Regions from separate parts of the Homo sapiens genome. Here regions 1, 3 and 4 are each linked to region 2. Evidence: fine-mapped expression QTL. A gene starts in region 2. Each other region holds a variant in brackets. All regions are shown on one strand. Distances are between the middles of the regions.

Evidence for each region.
Region 1: its variant is fine-mapped to the expression of CNOT9 in blood mononuclear cells (TOPMed, PIP 0.93).
Region 3: its variant is fine-mapped to the expression of CNOT9 in whole blood (TOPMed, PIP 0.97).
Region 4: its variant is fine-mapped to the expression of CNOT9 in lymphoblastoid cells (TwinsUK, PIP 0.91).

What each region holds. Positions count from the first base shown.
Region 1 is chr2:218,434,622-218,437,302 of GRCh38, reverse strand. VIL1 (villin 1) reads right to left here. Exons shown (of 20, transcript NM_007127.3): 14 at 2,598-2,681; 15 at 1,869-2,014; 16 at 677-821; 17 at 1-179. Among named protein-coding and RNA genes, the nearest start is that of VIL1, 17 kb to the right of the region's middle. The variant T/G (reference allele first, on the strand shown) is at 1,171.
Region 2 is chr2:218,567,471-218,570,151 of GRCh38, reverse strand. It overlaps CNOT9 (CCR4-NOT transcription complex subunit 9), which reads right to left and starts at 1,313. Exons shown (of 8, transcript NM_005444.3): 1 at 1,174-1,313. The coding sequence starts at 1,197. USP37 (ubiquitin specific peptidase 37) reads left to right here and starts at 1,801. Exons shown (of 26, transcript NM_020935.3): 1 at 1,801-1,974. RefSeq lists enhancers at 719-908, 703-1,330, 1,331-1,958 and silencers at 1,619-1,678, 1,769-1,838.
Region 3 is chr2:218,425,243-218,427,923 of GRCh38, reverse strand. VIL1 (villin 1) reads right to left here. Exons shown (of 20, transcript NM_007127.3): 4 at 2,113-2,309. Among named protein-coding and RNA genes, the nearest start is that of VIL1, 7.5 kb to the right of the region's middle. RefSeq lists a silencer at 1,918-2,135. The variant C/T (reference allele first, on the strand shown) is at 1,566.
Region 4 is chr2:218,893,318-218,895,965 of GRCh38, reverse strand. WNT10A (Wnt family member 10A) reads right to left here. Exons shown (of 4, transcript NM_025216.3): 4 at 2,038-2,648. It overlaps LOC105373882 (a long non-coding RNA gene), which reads left to right. Exons shown (of 3, transcript XR_923916.3): 2 at 1,048-1,261; 3 at 1,397-1,489. Among named protein-coding and RNA genes, the nearest start is that of WNT10A, 14 kb to the right of the region's middle. RefSeq lists a silencer at 365-659 and an enhancer at 2,633-2,648. The variant G/A (reference allele first, on the strand shown) is at 1,459.

The DNA of each region.
Region 1 (2,681 bases), 130 kb after region 2:
AAGGGATCCCAAGCCAGGAACCAGCCTGTGAAGGTGGGGGGCTCGTGTCCCTGCTTCACCACAATGATGGGGGTCTCAGGGTCACGCCCGCTGGGATGGGTCTTGAGGTATTCCTGTGCAGTGGTTGCTGCGGCCTTCTTCTCCTCCTCGTTGGCATGTTTCCCAATCCAGAAGAAGACCTATTGAGAAACCCAGGGGATCAGTCCATCCTTCCTGTCCTCCCTGGCCCACAGGGCTCTGCCTCAGTTGTCCAACAGTGAAACCCTGACCTTGACCCTGACTCTACCACTACCAGCCAAATGACCTAGGGCAGGCATCATCTGGCCTTGAATTTGTATCTGGGAAATTAGAAGGTTGGACAGATGCCTTGTACTTGGATATTCTGCAAATGTGTGTCTCCCAGACTGTCCAAAGCCCAGGATTCTCAAAAACACTCCTGCTGCCATGTGAAATAAATAGGACTTTGGGAGAGAATACGTTCTTCCCTGCAGCCCCTCTGAGCATGTTCCTCCCCACCTTCCTTCTTTCTTACACTTCTGGTGTTCATACCATTTCCAGGGAGAAATTATGTAAGGGCCAAGAAAACATTGACACTTACCTAACCTTAAAGCCACTCTTTCTTGGCCCTGGGGATTGAGGTGGCTGGGAAGAGGGGTCCCCAGGCCCTTGGTCCTACCTGGTCCCAGACATCTAGTAGGAACACATCATCCTCTTCCAAGTCATCCTGATTGAAGTCAGGGATCTCTGTGGCCAGGAAGCGCCCAGTCTTGTTGGAACACTCAAAGAGCCGGGGGGTGATGACCAGGTTTTCTTCCTGTAGTCTGCAGGATGGAGAGAAGATTGTACTGGCAGAAGGAAGGTGTGGCAAAAGGAGAATTGAGGACACAGAACTCTGAGGAAGGGACTCTGGCATAGAAAGGTCATCTCCAGCAAAATGCTCTATCTTCTGATTGATAAAAGGGTCCCCTCTCATTCCAAGAGTGCTCTGAGGAAGAAATTGTCACTGCTTTCTGGACATGCATTCCAGTGTCTTTTGCAGAGCCTTGTTAGGAAGTTCTTCCTGATATCTTCCCTCCATCCCTCCTACTGCTACTACAGTACATGCCCTTTTGCTTTTGAACTAGGGACTAGTAGATCATGGATATTCTCTAGAAAAACCATTTGAGCCAG[T/G]CACCGTGGCCCACACCTGTAATCCTAGCATTTTGGGAGGCTGAGGCAGGTGGATCACCTGAGGTCAGGAGTTCAAGACCAGCCTGGCCAACATGGTGAAACCCTGTCTTTACTAAAAATACAAAAATTAGCCGGGCACGGTGGTGGGCGCCTGTAATCTCAGCTACGCAGGAGGCTGCAGCAGGAGAATTGCTGGAACCTGGGAGGCGGAGGCAGAGGCTGCAGTGAGCTGAGATTGCACCACTGCATTCCAGCCTAGTTGACAGAGCGAGACTCTGTCACAAAAACAAAACAAAACCATTTGAAAGAGGGCTTGTGGCTGGGGCTCCTCAGCATCCCAGGCCTGTGTCAGGACCTAAAAGCAGGCTGGCCTCTGGCATCTTGTTACTGAAAGGCAAACCTCTAGCCCTGCCCCTTGCTTTGAGCTGCCTCCTATGGCCAGGAATTCCCTTTGCCAAGGAAATACCCCACCAGGTCCTGGGCATACTGTAGTGAGCAGCACAGACACAGCCCCTGTGCCAAGAGGCTCCAAGGGTATGGGCTGCCCTTTATTCATCTTGTAGCCCTGGGGGTCTGGCACAGTGCCTGACACACAGAGTCCTCAGTCCATGCCTGCTGTAGGCTCTGGGTGTAGGGATGGAGATGCTGGGCGGCTCCCCCACCTTGGTAACCTGGAGGCGGAGGGACCTGAGAGTTACCTCTTGGTGTTGGCATAGGGGGCCTTCCCACCCAGGGCCATCCAGAAGTTGGCTGGCTCCTGCCCTTCCACCACCACTTGCTTCTCCGTCCGGGAGATGGTGTCAGCAACCATCTTGGCCATCTCCCGCTCGTCCCCGCTACAACCCTAGGAAAAAAAAGAGTTGGCTAATTTCTAGTGCCACCCCTACCTCCACCCTCCTACTACATTCACTGCCCAGAGTTCAGGGGTCAAAGAGGGCTCTCCTGGGTCAGGACCTTGTGTATACAGGCCACACAGGGACAATTCCATGCTTTCTTCTGTCCTTGACACTCCAAAGAATAGCAGAAGAAACTAGAGAGTCTTTTCAAGGTTCGAGAGGGACTCCAAGAGGCTATGCATTCTTCTTACAGAGATCAAAGGAGAGGCAGTGACAGGCTCAGGGTAGTGAGAGAGAGCCCAAGACATAAAGACAGACCAACACAGGGACAGATGGAGGTGGCCAGAGAAACAGAACAAGAGAGACTGACTCCGACAGAGAGGCAGAGAATCTGAGGATGGTCATTGATGAGGCAGAAGGATAGACCCAGAGCTACTGAGGAGGGAGAGACTGGGCTCCAGAGGCGGCTGAGAATTGAGCAGGCACAACTTAGTTGGCCAGGGGTTCCTGCCCTGACCTAGGGCTGCTGCGAAACTGGGGGACTCCCAGGACCCACTTGCGGATGGGGAGGCCTCTAGACCCTGAACACACCTTCCCACACCATAGATAGCAGCAAGACTGGGTCTTGAGGACAAAGACATCATTGGAATTGAGGAAATTGGCCCGCGCTGGGAC
Region 2 (2,681 bases):
TCAGTGGTCACCTTCCCTTCAATATTCTTTCATGCAGCAAAGTATCTGAGTCTTTAATCTTGTACTAGGAACTGTCCTGGCACCGGGGAAACCACGTCAACAGGGCTCACATGATCCCTGTCCCTGCCCTCAAGGAGACAGACAACAAATAAACGAATACAATAATTACACGGGGATCAGGGCTGTAAAGGGTACTCTACTAAAGTTAGAGGCTGCGGAACTAATTTGAAGAGGATAGTCAGGGAAGGCCACTCTGAGACCGATTTAGGCAGAGACCTGAAGAAAGATGGATTTGGATAAACAGTTTAAGGAGAGGAAGGAGAGTTCAAGGAAGAGGTACCAATTACACTCATGCTGTGTATGTAAAGGAGGAGGGATAAGAAGAACATTCACTCCAGGCATAGAGACCACAAAGTGCATCTTGGAGAAAAATAAGCGCGTTGCAGAGGGTTAGGTGGCCAGAGTAGCTGAAGCTTTAGGAGCAAGAGACATAAAACGAGATTATAAACGTGGGTTAAGTACCACATCATACAGGGCCGTGCAGGCTATGGCAAGGAGTCTAGATTTTATTTAAATGCCAAGAGAAGTAGGATTACTTCGGATAGCTGAATTACACTATCTTTCTTTTTTGTTAAAAGATCACGCGGGTAAAACGAGATGTGTCGAGGAAAAGTTTTAAATGCAGAGAACCTAAGTCAGATGCAAAAATTATGCACTTTTCCGGGCCTCAGGTTTTCCATAAATAAAGCAAGTGGTTTGAACTAGAAGCCATTTCCTTCCCGCTGCGACGTGGTGAGTTCTAAGAGCAGGGGCCGCGTCAGATTGACCATGGAATTCCCCTCATCGACGCCGGCGCCCAGAACACAACTGGCGCCCTGAAACTGTTGGTCAGCGCAATAAATCAATGAATGGCCTGCTACGGGCGTGGGACCAGGCCCCGGCGCCCGCAAAGAACGCGATGGGTCGCGCTGAAGGCCGCGAGAGGCGTCCGGCAAGGAAATAGGGGCCGGCTCCACCACAACCAAAGCGTGCCGAGGAGGGGAACCGGGGCCTTGGAGATTGAGGGCAGAAAAAAATCAGACTAGGGACCCGACACCGGGAATTAGGAGAGAAGGCCGAAACGTGGGTCTGAGAAAGGATTCTGGTTCCAAGCCTGGGGGCCCAGCCACTCACCGCAGCCGTCGCCAGGCTGTGCATGTTGTGAGCGGCCGCCGCTCTCTTCCACAGCCGGACGCGTCCGACCCGCGTCCCCCCTTCAGCACCCCTGCAGCGGAAAACAATGAGCCGCCGTAGCCGCCATCCGACTCCGGCTCGCTCCGCCCACTTCGCGGCCCTCTGACCTCTCACCCCTGACCCCACCCACACATCCTCTTCCCGCCTCCAGGGCCTAGTTAACAGTCCCAGAGTATGTCCTTTGCCCCTTAAGATTTAGGACCGGAAGGACGTCCGCGACCACTAGTCCCCGCAACTTCTGGCTTTGAGCAGTTATTTCCAGAGAGCGGCGTGAACTCTGACCCTCCTCCAAAAGCCAGTGAACGGCGGGAAAAGATGGACAGTCCCGGCAAGACAACTATTGCGCATGCCCGACTGGGTTGCGTAGGAGGGAAATGGTGGGGGGGCGTCGAAATCGGGTGAGGTGGAAAGTGCGCGTGCCTACTACAGTCACGGCAGGGGCGGGGCTGCCCGGGCTAGGCCGCTCTAGGTACTGGCGGGGCGGGGCGAGGGCGTGTGAGGGGCGGAGTTTTCGACTGACGCGCACGCGCCTGTCTGGTCGCGTCGAGTGTGCGTGCGTGCGTGCGTGTTTGCGTGTGGTCACAGTTCCCGCCATCAGCCGCTCTCCCTGACTAGGGGTAGCTAGCGGCCTCCCTCCTTTGGGTTCGGTATCCCTACTTCCATTACCCTCGGCTCCTCCCACTCCTCGCGGGCTCCGTGCTTTCCGCGGGTCTGTCCGGGGGCTCCGGACCCTCGGCGCAGGTAAGGCGGGCCGGGGTAGCTTCTCAATTGAGCCGTTTTCCCTACCTCCTCCTCCTTCTGTGCGATCCGCCCACTCGGCGTTCACTCCTCTGGAGTTCGCCCTGCTGCTACTCAGCCCGCCCACAACCCCTCGATGCACCCCCAGCCTCACAGGTACTACCTTTGGGTGCACTGCCCCGGCTTCCACCTCTCCTTTGACTTGGTCTCCACTGCCACTCGCTCCCTCCGAAACTCAAACCTGGCCCCTTTTCTCTGGGGCTGTTGTCGTTCGCCTCTTACCTTCTAACAGGGCCTGCTGTCTCTTCAGGTGACTTTCGTTACGGCACATCCACCAGGCCTTGGACATGATACTCATTCACTCTCTTGACCATCTTCACCTTCCTCTTGACCAGTCCTCACTGCAAAACATGAATTGTATTTTTGTTGTGCATTTCCTTGCGCCCATTTCTAGCCGCCAGATCAGGTTGTTAGATGTAACTATTTTAAGTCATGATCCATGAAAGGAAATGATGATTGATGATAAAATCCTGTGTCCTGAAGAGTTGTCCTAAAGTGGTTTTGGGGTATTCCTCTCAAAATTTCAGCTCTGTATAAATTCCTTTATTGAGGTGGCAATTCCTGACAAGTGTCTAACTGGAAGAGATACCTGAGAGGGAATGTCAAGTAGGCAGTTGGATATAGTGGGTTTGGAGATCTTAGGAGAGTTC
Region 3 (2,681 bases), 140 kb after region 2:
GGTGTGCCTGGCCCCTGTTCTCCCAGGTCCTGGCTGCCACGCTGGGGTCACGTGAGGGCCAGGGTGGGAGTAGGCGAGGTCAATGAGGTGCTGAGGGCGCAAACTTTAGGGAGTCACTCACTGTCAGGTCCTGAAAGTGCAAGGTCTGCCTGTGGCATGCCCTTGCACGACCCTGACAGTGAGAGCAACCTTAAAGTCTGCACCCTAGATCTTCACTCGTCTTGCCCTAGTCCCTGCCCTGTGGAGAGGCCTGCAAAGATAGGGTCATGATATATTAAGAGTAGGAAATATATTAATAGGCCAGGTGCGGTGACTCACACCTATAATCCCAGCACTTTGGGAGGCCGAGGTGGGCAGATCATTTGAGGTCAGGAGTTCCAGACCAGCCTGGCCAACATGGTGAAGCCCCATCTCTACTAAAAATACAAAAAATTAGCTGGGCATGGTGGCGGGTGCCTGTAATCCCAGCTACTCAGGAGGCTGAGGCAGAAGAATTGCTTGAACCCAGGAGGCGGAGGTTTGCAGTGAGCCGAGATCGCACCATTGCACTCTAGCCTAAGCGACAGAGTGAGACTCCATCTCAAAAAAAAAAAAAAAGGAAATGTATTAATAAATAGGGACAGAATCCTGAGGACAGGGGATCAAAGTGGAAGAAAAGAAAAGAATGGAGAGGTGCCACTCCAGTGCCCATGGCAGTGGACTACTGCCATAGCGTGGGAAGAGAGGAGCAAGACAAAAAAAGAGTGGGAACTGTGGCTAATTAGAGAGCCCTCAGCCTGTCCTACAGGTCAGTAACAACTCAGCTCCAGAGTGTGTGTTTTCCTGGGGAAAGCTAAGCTAGAACTTCAACTTGTATAGAAAAGCCAGCAGTCTGGGCTGGGAGTGGTAGCTCATGCCTGTAATCCCAGGACTTCAGGAGGCTGAGGTGGGAGAATCACTTGAGCCCAGGAGTATGAGACCAGCCTGGGCAACAGAGCAAGACCTTCGTCTCTACAAAATATATATATTAAAAAATTAGTGCTGGCCAGGCATGGTGGCTCACGCCTGTAATCCCAGCACTTTGGGAGGCCAAGGCGGGCAGATCATGAGGTCAGGAGATTGAGACCATCCTGGCTAACACGGTGAAACCCTGTCTCTACTAAAAATACAAAAAAATTAGCCGGACGTGGTGGTGGGCACCTGTAGTCCCAGCTGCTGGGGAGGCTGAGGCAGGAGAATGGCGTGAGCCTGGGAGGCAGAGCTTGCAGTGAGTTGAGATCGCGCCACTGCACTCCAGCCTGGGCGGCAGAACAAGACTCTGTCTCAAAAAAAAAAATTAGCTGGGCATGGTGGCTCGGGCCTGTAGTCCCAGTTACTCAAGAGGCTGAGGTGGGGCCAGACGAAGTGGCTCACGCCTATAATCCCAGCACCTTGGGAGACTGAGGCAGATGGATCACTTGAGGTCAGGAGTTTGAGATCAGCCTGCCCGTGGTGAAACCCTGTCTCTACTAAAAATACAAAAATTAGCCAGGCCTGGTGGTGTGTGCCTGTAATCCCAGCTACTGGGGAGGCTGAGGCATGAGAAT[C/T]GCTTGAGCCCAGGAGGCGGAGTTTGCAGTGAGCCAAGACTGTGCCACTGTACTCCAGCCTGGGCAACAAAGCAAGACTCCATCTCAAAAAAAAAAAGGAAGAAAAAGAAAAGCTGTCGGTCTTGGTTTTTAGTGTGATAGGCCTGCATTAGAGATGGGGGAGCAGCCATTTGCCCGTTGGCCAGAGTTGGGGGGCTTGATTAGGCACTGAGCTCTCCAGGACATTCAAGTAGGAGCTGATTTACAGAGATTCACGAGAGTTATAGAATTTCAGAACAGCCTCCAGACCAAGGACAGAGCAGTGGCAGAAATAAGAGTTAGGGAGTGGAAAGGTGAGGGACAATCACCAAAAACTCATGAGGGTCCCCCTCGTGCCTCCCCCCACAGCTTCAGGGTCCCTTCCCCGCCCCAGGTCACCTCCCCCTGCTCCAAGTGTTCTTCCCAGGCCTGAACAGGTCTGGGTGTCCCTGCCTCTTCAGCTCAGCCCCAACATCTCTATCCCTACCACTCATCCTCATTCCCCCGGCCTGCAGCCCACCCTCCCTACACAAGGCCTTGCTTGAAGTAGCCTCGGAAGGCCTCGCTCTCGTTGCCCTGGACCTCGCGGTGCTGCACAGCCCGGCCCTTCAGGAAGTCATCCATCTGTGTGGTGTAGATGGCAGCTGCCCCCTGCTCATCCAGGGATGAGTCCTGGCCAATCCAGTAGTGGATGTCATAGGACAGGCTGCTGGCTGTCTTGTGGATCTAGGGAAAAGGTGTCCAGTGTACCCGAGACCCTGGGCTCCCACAGCCCCTCCAGCTCTGTGTGACCTCCCACACACGTGCCGTCCAGGACTATGGGGGAGCGTGGCACAGGGCAAGTGCACTAGGCTGGCGGTTAGGAGCCCTGAGTCATGGCCCAGCTCTACCATTGACTCTCTGAGACATGGCTTCTCCTCTCTGGGCCTCCCTTGCCTCATCTCAGAAATAACTTGCTTGTGCCAGGCACAGTGGCTCACGCCTGTAATCCCAGCACTTTGGGAGGTCGAGGCAAGTGGATCACCTGAGGTCAGGAGTTGAAGACCAGCCTGGCCAACATGGCAAAACCCTGTCTTTACTAAAAATACAAAAATTAGC
Region 4 (2,648 bases), 330 kb before region 2:
TTTTCCTAATTTAGGTCCCTTATCAAGTCCCATACAACCCCTTTCAACCGTGGGCGTCACCTTTGGTCCCAGAACTCATCAGCTTCTGGGCTTCACAAGTTAGGCTAACACATATCAGATCACCTTGACTTATGTCATTAAAACATGTGTCCTCCCTACAACTCCGGGTCCAGCCCCCTGCCCCACCCAACCACCCACCCCTCTCTCTGCATTCAACACATGCTCTGCAGCATGGCTGCTCCCACCTTCTTATCCCAGTCCTGATCCTCTACCTCTCATCTTCAGTCTCCCCTCCCCCAGCTTGGTCATCCTCCTTAAGCCTTGAAGGCAGAGGAGGGTTAGGCCAAGGCTAATGTTGCAGTGGACACTGCTGGGCATGGCAGCACCCCCTCAACCCTAGGCCTCCATTTCCCCCACCTCTTCTCTCCTCCTCCCTGGGATGGGAGGGAGGAAGCGGGTGGAAAACCCAGCCCCCACAGCTCTCTCCTAGGTGATCAAGAGGAAAGGAATGAGGCAGGTGTGTCTGGCTGCTCCTGCCTACCCCTCCTCCTGGGGGACTCTCACCCGCCCGCCTGTGGGGCTGTCTTTTGGGGGATGGGGAAAGAAACCCTGTCCTCCAGAGAAGCAGCAGAGCTGAGCATTCGGAAGCCCCTCTGCCACAGGCATGCCTGCGAGCTGCTGGCATTTGGAGGGGAAGGAGATGAGGGGCAAGCTCATGGAGGCAAATCTTCCAGCTGGTGGGCCTACTGGGGTGTATCACTAAGAGGCCCCCATTTCCTTCTCACTTCTACTCAGGGGTAGGGAGACATGGATCAGGGGTGGAAAGTATGGAGGATTTGTGCTGGCTGATCACTGGGGAAAGGAACAAGTCTTCATCCTTGCCTGGTTCATCAAGAGGGGTGCTATTCTAGGGTAAATTGAGGCAGCCAGCGGGATCCTCAAGTGTGAGCAGCAAGAGGCCTGGATGCAGTAGGTAAAGTGTTCTTTCCCTGAGATCCTGACCTCACTCCCTTCTCCACCGCCCTCCTCCTTGAGGGTCTGTTCCAGAAAACATCAGATCCGAGAGCGAAGGAGAGTGCAACACTGGACCCAAACTGCTCAACAGTGTCCTCACAGGGACATGAGGGTGGGGAAGGATTGCTGACCTGCTAAGGAGCACCCTGATATGGGGATCTGGGAGCACAAGAGGCCCAGGAAGAATGTGCCCCCTGCACCTTACTTACATACCCTGCCTGGACTCAGAGAGACCAGAATCCAGACAGTGAGTCTCCGGGCCCTCCTCCGCCACCCTTTTCCCAGCCGCGCCTCCTGGCCCCACCTGCTCCCCGGGGCGCTGGGCTGGGCTGAGCTGGGTCTTGCCCAGGATTACTCCTCTGAGTGCCTCCTGTCTCTGCAGACAGTTGCTGCTGGGCACGGCCACTCGTCCTGGCTTGTGGCAGAGGGCTCAGGCACAAGGTG[G/A]GCGGTTAGAGCTCTGGCACCAGAGCCCTTCTCGACATCCCCACTGCTTACAACCAGTCCAAGCCCCATCTCTGACTTAGAAGATGGTTGTTATTCCTCACTGGCTTACCAGCTGTCACCTCATCCCCCTTCAGCCAGTTCCCCATCAGCGATCCATGTGAGACTTGGACCAGGACACTCCCCTGCTTAAGGATCTCAAGGTTCCCATTCCTCTTTAATAAAACCCCAACTCCTTACTTTGGCTTAGAGAGACACACGATGTGACCTTTGCCCACCCTCTGAACACCTCTCCTGCTAGTCTGTCCCTTGATTTCTTCACTGCAATCACAATGGCCCCTTTGCTGTTTCTCCAGCAGGCAGAGATCTTTCTCAGCTCACACTTTCTGCCTTCACATGGCCTCTGCCTGGAATGCCCTTACCCATACTCTTTGCATGGCTTATGATGCAGGTCCCAGCATAGGTATCACAACTCACAGAGGCCTTCCCTGAAAAAACAGTGGCTTTGTCTGAGGAGCCCCACTCCCCATAAATCCCCCTACACCCAGCAGCCTGCACACAGCATTGTCTGAAATGACCTTGTTTGTATATTTACTTGTTTATTGCCCATGCCTCCCCCCAGCAAGAATGTAACCTCCAAGAGGACAAGTGTTGTGTCTCGCTTACTCACATCTGTGGCCTCAGTGCCTTGCATTGCCACCCCCACGCACCCCACCGCCCCCAGAGTGCCGCAAAGAGAGTGCAAAATAAATATTTGTTAAATGAATGATGAAGGGAATGGTGGAGGAGGCTGTCTGGGCCCTTTATGGAATTACTTCAGCTCAGTTATGTCTATTTCTTTTTTTTAATCCTCCTCTCTCTGCCCGTCAGCTTCCATTCATTCCCCACCTCCCATCTCCAGGGAAGGGGTGAAAGGATGGAGACAGACTGACGGGTTGCCTGGCTGAGGCTTGTTTTAGGGTGTGGAGCAACCCCCAGCCCAACTGAACTGTCTGGGCTTCGGGGAGGGAGGAAGAACCCAGTCAGTCCTAGAGCCCACAGAAGTGAGTGGTGGGGTTCAGACAGGCCTGGACTGTCCGGCGATCACAGACCTCAGAGCTGAGGGGTTCCTATAAGATCATGTGGTCCAATCTCCTCTTCCCAAGAGCCAAGGCGATGCTGCCTTGCCAAGACCGTAAGCCTCAGAGGGCCAG